Regions from separate parts of the Homo sapiens genome. Here region 1 is linked to region 2. The links come from fine-mapping of genetic effects on gene expression. Tissue or cell type: whole blood. Region 2 holds a variant in brackets; the other region holds the start of a gene. All regions are shown on one strand. Distances are between the middles of the regions.

What was found. PIP is the estimated chance that this variant, and not a neighbour inherited with it, causes the effect.
Region 1: GGNBP2 starts here. The variant in region 2 is fine-mapped to the expression of GGNBP2 in whole blood (TOPMed, PIP above 0.99).

The regions. Positions count from the first base shown.
Region 1 is chr17:36,542,278-36,547,471 of GRCh38, reverse strand. GGNBP2 (gametogenetin binding protein 2) reads right to left here and starts at 2,553. Exons shown (of 14, transcript NM_024835.5): 1 at 2,375-2,553; 2 at 1,655-1,853. The coding sequence starts at 1,747. It also overlaps a transcript of MYO19 not described here.
Region 2 is chr17:36,572,133-36,577,326 of GRCh38, reverse strand. The region is part of intron 6 of GGNBP2 (gametogenetin binding protein 2); the gene reads right to left. It also overlaps the pseudogene RPS2P50. Among named protein-coding and RNA genes, the nearest start is that of DHRS11, 17 kb to the left of the region's middle. The variant C/A (reference allele first, on the strand shown) is at 2,240.

The DNA of each region.
Region 1 (5,194 bases), 30 kb after region 2:
CTTTTGAAGACTATTTATGTTGGTTTTCCCTATGTTTTGATATGTTTTCCTATGTTATGATTATTCATTAAATAATAATCTTATATCCAAACTCACTGAATTTTTTTTTTTAACTCCACAGCCATTGTGGGACAATAAACCTTAAAGGCTGATATCATAACTATATGCTTCAGAAAAGTGTTTATGTTAGCAGGGGAGAGAAGAAAGAAAATATCAACAAATGAATCCCTATCTGAAGTCCAAACTGAGAAATGCATTATTTAATATGATCACAGTGCTAGTTTCAACTATTTAAAAATACAAGTCCATTATACTTCTAATGCAAAAAGTACAGAAATCATAATCAAGACACACAATTTCTAATGCATCAACACTATTTACTTTATGTCAGAACAAATCATTCTACCTTTTTTCATGAAAAATAAATGCACTTGAATAATTAGAAATGCTGTCACTTAAAAACTTCTAATAAATTAAGTCATTCAATAGCTCTTCTAATCCTTTTTAAAGTACTGCAGCTCAATCAAGTCTTAATTGAGACTGGCAAGCATAAAGGCATAGACTGGCATCTCTACAATGACTTGCATTTTACATAAAATTTGAAAAAACTTCGGTAGATATTTGCAAAAAAAAATATTGAGGAACAAAACTGATCAACTGCCTTTGATAGCAAAAGAATACTGATGAGATGAAGAGACTTAGGTGCACCTTATCGAAATAAGCAAATGTATAATCCAAAGCTTCAGCATCATCAAAACGCAGATTTCAAAAGATATTCGGAAAAGGTTAATTTCATTTCTTAAGTGGCAAGCAACTGCACTCATTTCCTGTTCAGATTCAATTCAAATTTCAGCCATTTCCTTTTAAAGGAAACAGTACAGCAACATAGGGCAGAGGGTCGATAATGCTACACTACCAAATCTAAAGAATAAAGTACCCGGAACTGGGTCTTGACACTCAAGATGAGCAATCAGCTTTTTATAGTACTCTTACACATTCAATAATTTGGCTTCCTTTAAAAAAAAAAAAGTCCACCTGTAAACTAAATAATGCGAAGAAAGCCCGTTTTGAAGAAAGGGCCTAGCAATACAATCATTTCAAGAGTTTTAATGCATTAGGCAATACGAGACTATTTACAACGAAATCAAACCATTTTAGTGGAATCTTGACTGTGCACGAGCATGTCACTCTGCCCCCAGTAATTAAGCTTATGTGGTGAGAGCTACCAGTATTAAAACAGAAAATACACAGGTAGCAGTGCAGCTGCGACATTACCAGGTAATTAAGCCTCCCCGAGGGTAGGTGGTTTCTGTATGGGGTAGGCCCTAAACGCCCAAGATCCTTCAACCCCTCTCTGAGATGTGTGCTTTGACAAAAGCAGCGTCTCCTAAAGGGAAAGGGTCAAGGAATAAGGTTCCAAAAGAAGGAAAATCTGGAGAGAGGGAGTGCGTACGGAGCTCTGGGCTTGGGGCCGACAGAGGTTACCGAGCCACCCACTGCAAAGGCGAGTTTGTGGGGCCTGCTGAAGAGAAGGCCTCGCCTAGGAGTTGCAACACACTCTTTCTCCAGTGCGCAGCGCTCGGCCTGGGGGAGGGGGAGGAGGGGAAACAGCTGCCAGGGGAGCGGCGGGCCCAGCCCGGCCCGGCCCGCTCACCGTCAGGGTGTCGTCTATGTAGAGGGGAATCTGCCTCCTCTCGAAGGGGAACTCCTCCTCCCCGTCCCTGCACACTGCCACGAGTCGCGCCATCGTCCCCGACGCTGCCGTTGCCACCGTCACCACCTCCTCCCAGCTGCCGCCGCCGCCGCCGCTGCTGTTTCTGCCGCCGCCGCTGCCGCCTCCTCCCAGCTCCTGCCTGCAACAGCCAAACCCCGCGAGCGTAAGCACCCGCCGCTGCGCAGCACATTCGCCACGGGGGGCAGGGAGCGGAGCGGGAGGGTACGGGAGAGCCGGGCTGCGTTTCCCATCACCCGATTCCACACACGCTCAGCCAATCAGCGCCCAGCGCCGCCGGGACCCGCCCCCCTCGCGCCGCGCTCCCTCCCTCTCTCCCGCCCGCCCGCCCGCCCGCCGGCCTCCAGTCAGGGTCCAAAGGAGAGGCGGAAGGGACCGGCCTGCCGGGGGCTTCCCCGCCCGCTGCAGGAGTCCCGGCCCCAGGACCCCACCCCTGGCCTGGGCCCCGCAGCCTGTTCCCCGCCGCCCGCCGCCCGGGTGCCCTCTGCCCCCAACTGACCCCTTCTCCCCGCTTCTGGGCGCACCCCGCCCAGTCGGCCCCAGGACTGCAGTTGCCCAGCGCGACCCCGCCCCTGGGAGGGATCGACCCCGCAGCGGCTCTGCGGAGTCCAGGGAACGGGGAGGCTCAGACCCTTTCCTCACCCTTCTCGGAGGAGGCTGTCGGTTCCGACCTTCACCGTTTTCGTGGTCGCCTCGCTAACTCCCACCTCTGCTCCCTGTTACTGGCTGACGAGGCCCGCGTCAGGGCCGGCGTGGGCGGGAGCGCAGCTCCGAATGTCGTTTCCTCTACGGGCAGTCAGCCGCTCGCGCCGCGGGGAGTGGAAGAAGGAGGGCGGGGGACGAGGGGAAGGTGGGGCCGGGCGGGGTCGGGCGCCGGGCGGGACCCACGTCCTCTCGCGAGACTGGGGCTGGCCGCGCTGGGGACCCCGCTGGAGAAATTTGCGCCCAGAGGGTGCGGGGCCGCCCTGGCCGTCCCGCCCGTGGGCCCGGCGCCCTTCTCGGAGCCCAGCCATTCCGCTAGACCCGAACTAGGACTGGTAGGAGGGGTGATCGGCCCAACCTCAGGCCCCAGCCGCGGGCCGGGAAGGCTTCCCCACGGACGAGGGGCAAGCCCCTCGACGTCAGGGTGTCGTCTATGTAGAGGGGAATCTGCCTCCTCTCAAAGGGGAATTCTTTCAGCGAGTCAAGCCCGTCTGATTCGGGGCTGACTCAGGGCAGAGGCCCAGAGAGGACCTGGATAGGTTGCGAGAAGTCGAGATCAGAGGGGGCGGAAGGCAGTGAGAAAAGGGAGACGAGCATCGGGGGGTGAGAGACAAACTCAGGTCTGGCTCTTGGCCCTTGACGCCACTGAATTCGCTTCCCACGGTGGGAAGAGGAGAAAAGGGCCCTGACACCGCGGCTCGCCAGGGGCCCGCTGCGTAGCTGCATCCCGATCCCGCTGAGGGGACAGCAAATAGTGAAGTGCTGATAGCTTGTGGTTGTCGTTACACTGGAAGGAAATAGAAAACCGGACAGTGGTGTGTGTGTGTGCGTCTTGGCCAAAGGAACTTCTTGGGCTGGGTTAATGTGAGCAGGTACTCCCTTGGGCGAAGTACTGGCACTGGCCAACGGCCTTTCCCTCTGGCCGTCTCCGAGGAAGCAGAGCTGCTGTGAAGACAGTTCCTCTCGCCACCGTGTGTTCAGTTCTGACCTTGAAGGTTTTGGAGGTCTGTTGTGAAGATATTTAGCCTATGAAAGTCCTGGTGATCTGAAGGACAGATCAATTTACTGCTCTATTTCCTGGAGCTGTGATACCTTTAAAAAAAGTATTTTGGGTCGGGCATGGTGGCTCACGCCTGTAATCCCAGCACTTTGGGAGGCCGAGGTGGGTGGATCACCTGAGGGTCAGGAGTTTGAGACCAGCCTGACCAATATGATGAAACCCCCGTCTCTACTAAAAATACAAAAATTAGCCGGGCGTGGTGGCATGTACCTGTAATCCCAGCTACTAGGGAGGCTGAGACGGGACAATCACTTGAACCCGGGAGGCGGAGGTTGCAGTGAGCCCAGATCGCGCCATTGCACTGCAGCCTGGGCAACAAGAGCGAAACTCCATCTCAAAACAAAATAAAGTATTTTGGTTATCACATGGAGTCTTAGAGATTCACAACAAATAACCCATAGTGCACCCTTAGCCATGTTGACTTAGTACATTGTGTGGTCATTGTTAGGGTCGGTGACATAATAAACGAAGAACCATTGTTCATTCCCGAAGGTGTCATTACCCGGCAAATATTTATGTCTTCTGGGCCGGGGTCATGGCTCACGCCGGTAATCCCAGCACTTTAGGAGGCGAGGTGGGTGGATTACTTGAGGTCAGGAGTTCGAGACTGGCCTGACCAACATGGTGAAACCCAGTCTCTACTAAAAATACAAAATTAGCCGAGCGTGGTGGCGCACGCCTGTTATCCCAGCTACTCGGGAGGCTGAGGCAAGAGAATCGCTTGAACCCGGGAGGCAGAGGTTGCAATGATCCGAGATCGCGCCATTGTGCTCCGGCCTGGGCGACGAGTGAAACTACGTCTCAAAAAAAAATTTTTTTTATGTCTTCTGGCCATGTTAGCAGAGTAGAAGAGTGAGTATTAGCTTGAATCTAATACGTATGTATGATGTTCATATACATAGCCAAAATTTGGACATTTTTAGAGAATCTTGCGTTTTATGTAAAAAACAAAACAAAAACCAGGACGGGGGCGGCGGCTAACACCTGTAATCCCAAGACTTTGGGAGGCCAAGGCGGGCGGGTCACTTGAGGTCAGGAGTTCGAGACGAGCCTGGGCAACATGGAGAAAACCTGTCTCTACTAAAAATACAAAAATCAGCTGGGCGTGGTGGCGAGCACTTTTAATTCCAGCTACTCCGGAGGCTGAGGCAGAAGAATCGCTTGAACCGGGAAGGCGGAAGTTGCAGTGAGCCAAGATACTGTGGCCTTCAGTATCTAGAGGTGCTCCTACAGTGGTACATCAATTAATGTACCCACTTTAAACCTTTTTTTTTTTTTTGAGACGGAGTCTCACTCTGTCGCCCAGGCTGGAGTGCAGTGGCGCTATCTCGGCTCACTGCAAGCTCCGCCTCCCGGGTTCATGCCATTCTCCTGCCTCAGCCTCCCGAGTAGCTGGGACTACAGGCGCCTGCCACCACGCCCAGCTAATTTTTTGTGTTTTTATTAGAGACGGGGTTTCATCGTGTCAGCCAGGATGGTCTTGATCTCCTGACCTCTTGATCCGCCCGCCTCGGCCTCCCAAAGTGCTGGGATTACAGGCGTGAGCCAACGTGCCCAGCCTAAACCTTTTAGACTTCATTAGGATTCTGGTTGGTAAAGAACATTAAAAATGACAAGCTCATTATATAGGTGCTAATTTTAATTACTTTGACTACTGAACACACGCCAGGTACTAACAAAGAAGGGAGTATTCACCCTGG
Region 2 (5,194 bases):
TTAAGTGTATAAAATGTGGCAAAAGAATAGAAGAGTTTGTGAATGTAGAGAAGGAAGAAAATTTCTTTTAGAAACCAAATATCAATCAATCAGAAAGAAATAATAGAGCCTGGTTTCTTTATCTTTGAATTCCTGGAACAAGAAGAACTTGGTCAGGTGGAAAAGCCAGGCTCACAATAAGAGTAAATGGCTAAGAAGATTAGTTAAGTGAAACAAGGAAATTTTGATCTCTTTGATTTAAATTCATCTCCCAGATGAGCTCATCTATGCGTATGGCTTCAACTAACATGTCTATAAAGATGACTTGTGACTCTACAGCTCCATTCAAATCTCTGCTATTGCCTGAGGGCCAGACCCATATCGAAAAGTGACAAGACATGGCAGATGTCCAATAGGCAACACCTTAAATTCACTGTCCAAGGGTAATGCTGTTCTATTCCTATGTGCCTTCTCAATCCCTGTTAATAAGAACACTGCCATTCACAGCCATTCAGAGTCACCCAGGCTGGAAATCTGAGTTAATTCCAACTTCTCCCTGGGTCTTCCTATTGAGTAGAGCCAACTAGTATTCATTCTTTCTTGTTTCTCCTGTAGGTCCCTATTTTCAATTCCCTCTGGCATGGTTTAAGTTGCCTATGCTATATATATATATATACACATATATATACATATATATACATATACATATATACATATACACACACACACACACACACACACACACACACACATATATATATATTTTTTTTTTTTTTTTTTTTTTTTTTTTTTTTGAGACAGAGTCTCTCTCTGTTGCCCAGGCTGGAGTGCAGTGGCGCCATCGAGGCTCACTGTAACCTCTGCCTCCTGGGTTCAAGCGATTCTCCTGCCTCAGTCTCCCGAGTCGCTGGGATTACAGGCGCCCACCACTACACCCAGCAAATTTTTTGTATTTTTTAGTAGAGACAGGGTTTCGCCAAGTTGGCCAGGCTGGTCTTGAACTCTTGAACTCAGAGGATCTGTCCGCCTAAACTAAGCTAGAGTGCAGCGGGACAATCATGGCTCACTGCAACCACCGCCCCCCAGGTTCAAGCAATTCTCGTACCTCAGACTCCTGAGTAGGAGGGATTGCATGCGCCCACCACCACACTGGGCTGATTTTTGTGTTTTTAGTGCAGATGGGGTTTCACCATGTTGGCCAGGCTGGTCTTGAACTTCTGACCTCAAAGTGATCCCTCCACCTCAGCCTCCCAAAGTGTTGGGATTACAAGCATCAGCCACCACGCCCGGCCTAGACTTCTTACTATAGTATTTACCCTTCTACTGCCATATCTTTGTTTCATGCACACACGTTTTGCTGGACCAATAGTAGATAACAATGTTTCTTAAAATGAAGATATGGGCTGGGCGCGGTGGCTCACGTCTGTAATCCCAGCCCTTTGGGAGGCAAAGGCGGGTGGATCATCTGAGCTCAGGAGTTCGAGATCAGCCTGGCCAACATGGTGAAACCCCGTCTCTACTAAAAATACAAATATTAGCCAGATGTGGTGGCATACACCTGTAATCCCAGCTACTCAGGAGGCTGAGGCAGGAGAATTGCTTGAACCCGGGAGGCAGAGGTTGCAGTGAGCCAAGATCGCACCACTGCACTCCAGCCTGCATAAGAAGAGCGAAACTCCATCTCAAAAAAAAAAAAAAATATATATATATATATATATATATATATATATATATGTTACATTAGAGGCTCTAAGCCCACTTGGTAAACAGAGGCAACAATGCTGACAAATAATGTTAAATTATGTTATTTCACTAAAGTTTTAAATATGGGCAAAAATATACAAAAATTAACACAAAATGGATTAAAAACTAAATGTTAACATCTGAAAACCATAAAACTAGAAGAAAACATAGGGGAAACTCTTCATGACACTGGACTAAGTGATGATTTCCTGGCTATGACACCAAAAGCACACATGCACAACAAAAACAAAAATAGATGCTTCTCTGAGAAAACACCAAATGGCAGATGATGCTGGTGGCAGCCGGTGGTGGGGATCGCCTGGGATGGGGAAATGCAGTGGCTTCCGTGGAGGTTTCGGCAGTGGCATCCGGGGCCGGGGCTGGGGCTGAGGCCGCGGCTGAGGCCGCAGAGCTCATGGAGGCAAGGCCGAGGATAAAGAGTGGATGCCTATCACCAAGCTGGGCCGCCTGGTCAAGCACATGAAGATCAAGTCCCTGGAGGAGATGTATGTCTTCT[C/A]CCTGCCCATGAAGGAATCTGAGATCACTAACTTTTTCCTGGGGGCCTCTCTCAAGGACGAGGTTTTGAAGATTATGCCAGTGCAGAAGCAGACCCGTGCCGGCCAGCGCACCAGGTTCAAGATGTTTGTTGCCATCGTGGACTACAATGGCCACATCGGTCTGGGTGTTAAGTGCTCCAAGGAGGTGGCCACTGCCATCCACGGGGCCATCATCCTGGCCAAGCTCTCTATTGTCCCTGTGCACAGAGGCTACTGGGGGAACAAGATCAGCAAGCCCCACACCATCCCTTGCAAGCCGACAGGCCACCACGGCTCTGTGCTGGTGCGCCTCATCCCTACGCCCAGAGGCACTGGCATCGTCTCAGTGCCTGTACCCAAGAAGCTGCTTATGATGGCTGGTATTGATGACTGCTACACCTTAGCCAGGGGCTACACTGCCGCCCTGGGTAACTATACCAAGGACACCTTTGATGCCATCTCTAAGACCTACAGCTACCTGACCCCCGACCTCTGGAAGGAGACTGTATTCATCAAGTCTTCCTGTCAGGAATTCACTGACCATCTCGTCAAGACCCACACCAGAGTCTCCATGCAGAGGACCCAGGCTCCAGCTGTGGCTACAACACAGGGTTTTTATACAAGAAAAATAAAGTGAATTAAGCCTGAAAAAAAAAAAAAAGACTACAGTCGTGTCACTTAACAATGGGACACATTCTGAGAAATGCATTGTTAGCTATTTTGTTGCTGTGCGAACATCAGAGTGTACTTACACAAACCTAGGTAGTATACATATTTTTATTTATATTTTTTTCACATGGAAAACCAAATGTCCCAGCACCATCACTGAATATTAATCATTTCCTCTACTTGATCTGCAACGCAGTATGCTCCATTATAATCTTACGGGCCCACTGTCATATATGTGGTCTATCACTGACCAAAATGTCATCACATAGCACATGACTATGCATTAAACTTAAAAACGTTGGCACAGCAAAGATGATCAACAGAGTAAAAAGGCAACCCAAAGAATGGGAAAAAATATTTGCAAACCATATATTGAATAAGGGGTTAATAGCCAGAATATAAAGAACCACTAGAACTCAATCACAAAAAAAATAGCTTAATTTAAAAATGGGCAAAGCCGTGATCATGCCACTGCACTCCAGCCTGGGCAACAAAGAAGATCCTGTCAAAAAAATAAAATAACTTAAAAGTAAATAAATAAATGGGCAAAGCATGAATCGACATTTCTCCAAAGATTATATACAAATGGCCAGCAAACATATGAAAAGATGCTCAACATCACTAATCATCAGGAAAATGCACATCAAAAACACAATGAGATATCACCTTAAACCAACTAGAATGACCACTATCAAAACAACAACAACAACAAATAACAAGTGTTACTGAGGATGTGAAGAAATTGGAACCCTTATGCACTGCTGGCAGGAATATAAAACGGTACAGCTGCTATGGAAACCGGTACGGAAGTTCTTCAAAATAAAACTACCATACGATCCAGGAATCCCACTTCTAGGTATATATCCAAAAGAACTGATAGCAAGGATCTTGAAGAGATATTTGCACACTCATGTTCACTGCAGCATTTATTGACAACAGGCGAAATGTGAGAGCAACCTTCAATGTCCATCAATGTATGAATGGACAAAGAAATGTGAATAGCCAGGTGCGGTAATCCCAGCACTTTGGGAGACCGAGGCGAATGGATCACTTGAGGTCTGGAGTTCAAGACCAGCCTGACCAACAAGGTGAAACCCTGTCTCTACTAAAAACACAAAAATTAGCCAGGTGTGGTGGTGTGTGCCTGTAATCCCAGCTACTCAGGAGGCTGAGGCAGGAGAATCACTTGAACTCGGGAGGCGGAGGTTGCAGTGAACCGAGATCAAGCCACTGCACCCCTGCCTGGGCAACAGAGCGAGACTGTCTCAAAAAAAAAGAAAAAAGAAAAGTGAATAATATCACATATACTATGACACTGCCCATTTTTAAATAATGTCACAGTATTGTGACATTATTCAGCTTTTAGAGGGGAATCCTGTCATATGCTACAACATAGATGAATCTTAGACATTATCTAAGTATTGTCTTAGATAATGGCTAAGTAAAATAAGCCAATCACAAAAATTCAAGTGCTACATTATCCCATTTATATGAGCTATCTAAAATAATTAAACTCAGAAACAGAAAGAAGAATTGTGGTTGCTAGGGGGTGAGGGGAGAAAAAAGGTGTTGTTCAATGCGTATAGTTTCAGTTGAGATGAAAAAGTTCTAGAGATCTGTTGTACAACAATGTGCATATAGTTAACAAAATTATAATGTACACTTAAAAACTGTTTGAAAGGTAAATTTATGTTTCACGGTTTTTTGAGACAGGGTCTCACTCTGTTGCCCAGGCTGGAGTGCAGTGGCATACTCTTGTCTCACTGTAGCCTCAACCTCCCTAGTAGGCTCAGGTGACCCTCCCCGCCTCATCCACCTGAGTACCTGGGACTACAGGTGTGTGCCACCACGCATGGCTAATATTTGTATTCTTTGGAGAGACAGGGTTTGGCCATGTTGCCCAGGCTAGTCTTGAACTCCTGGGCTCAAACAATCCGCCCACCTCAGTCTCCCAAAATGCTGAACTGTGAGACACTGTGCTTAGCCTTATTTTGTGTTCTTTTAAAATATACACATACGCGCGCAGGAACAGAAAGTCTCTCCTTTAGGAGAGAAAAAACGGACACAGAAATAACAACAAATACTTCCACATTTTCAGGTTATAAACAGCAAGTTCACATTTTCAGGTAATTAAATGGTCAAATATCAAAGAGAACAATAATAAAACTTGAAATATTTTCCCCCTATTTTACTGCTTTATACTCTCATAGTAGTTTAATATATGTTTGATTGTACAACTATAAGCATAAGTAAATAGCAAGTTAAAA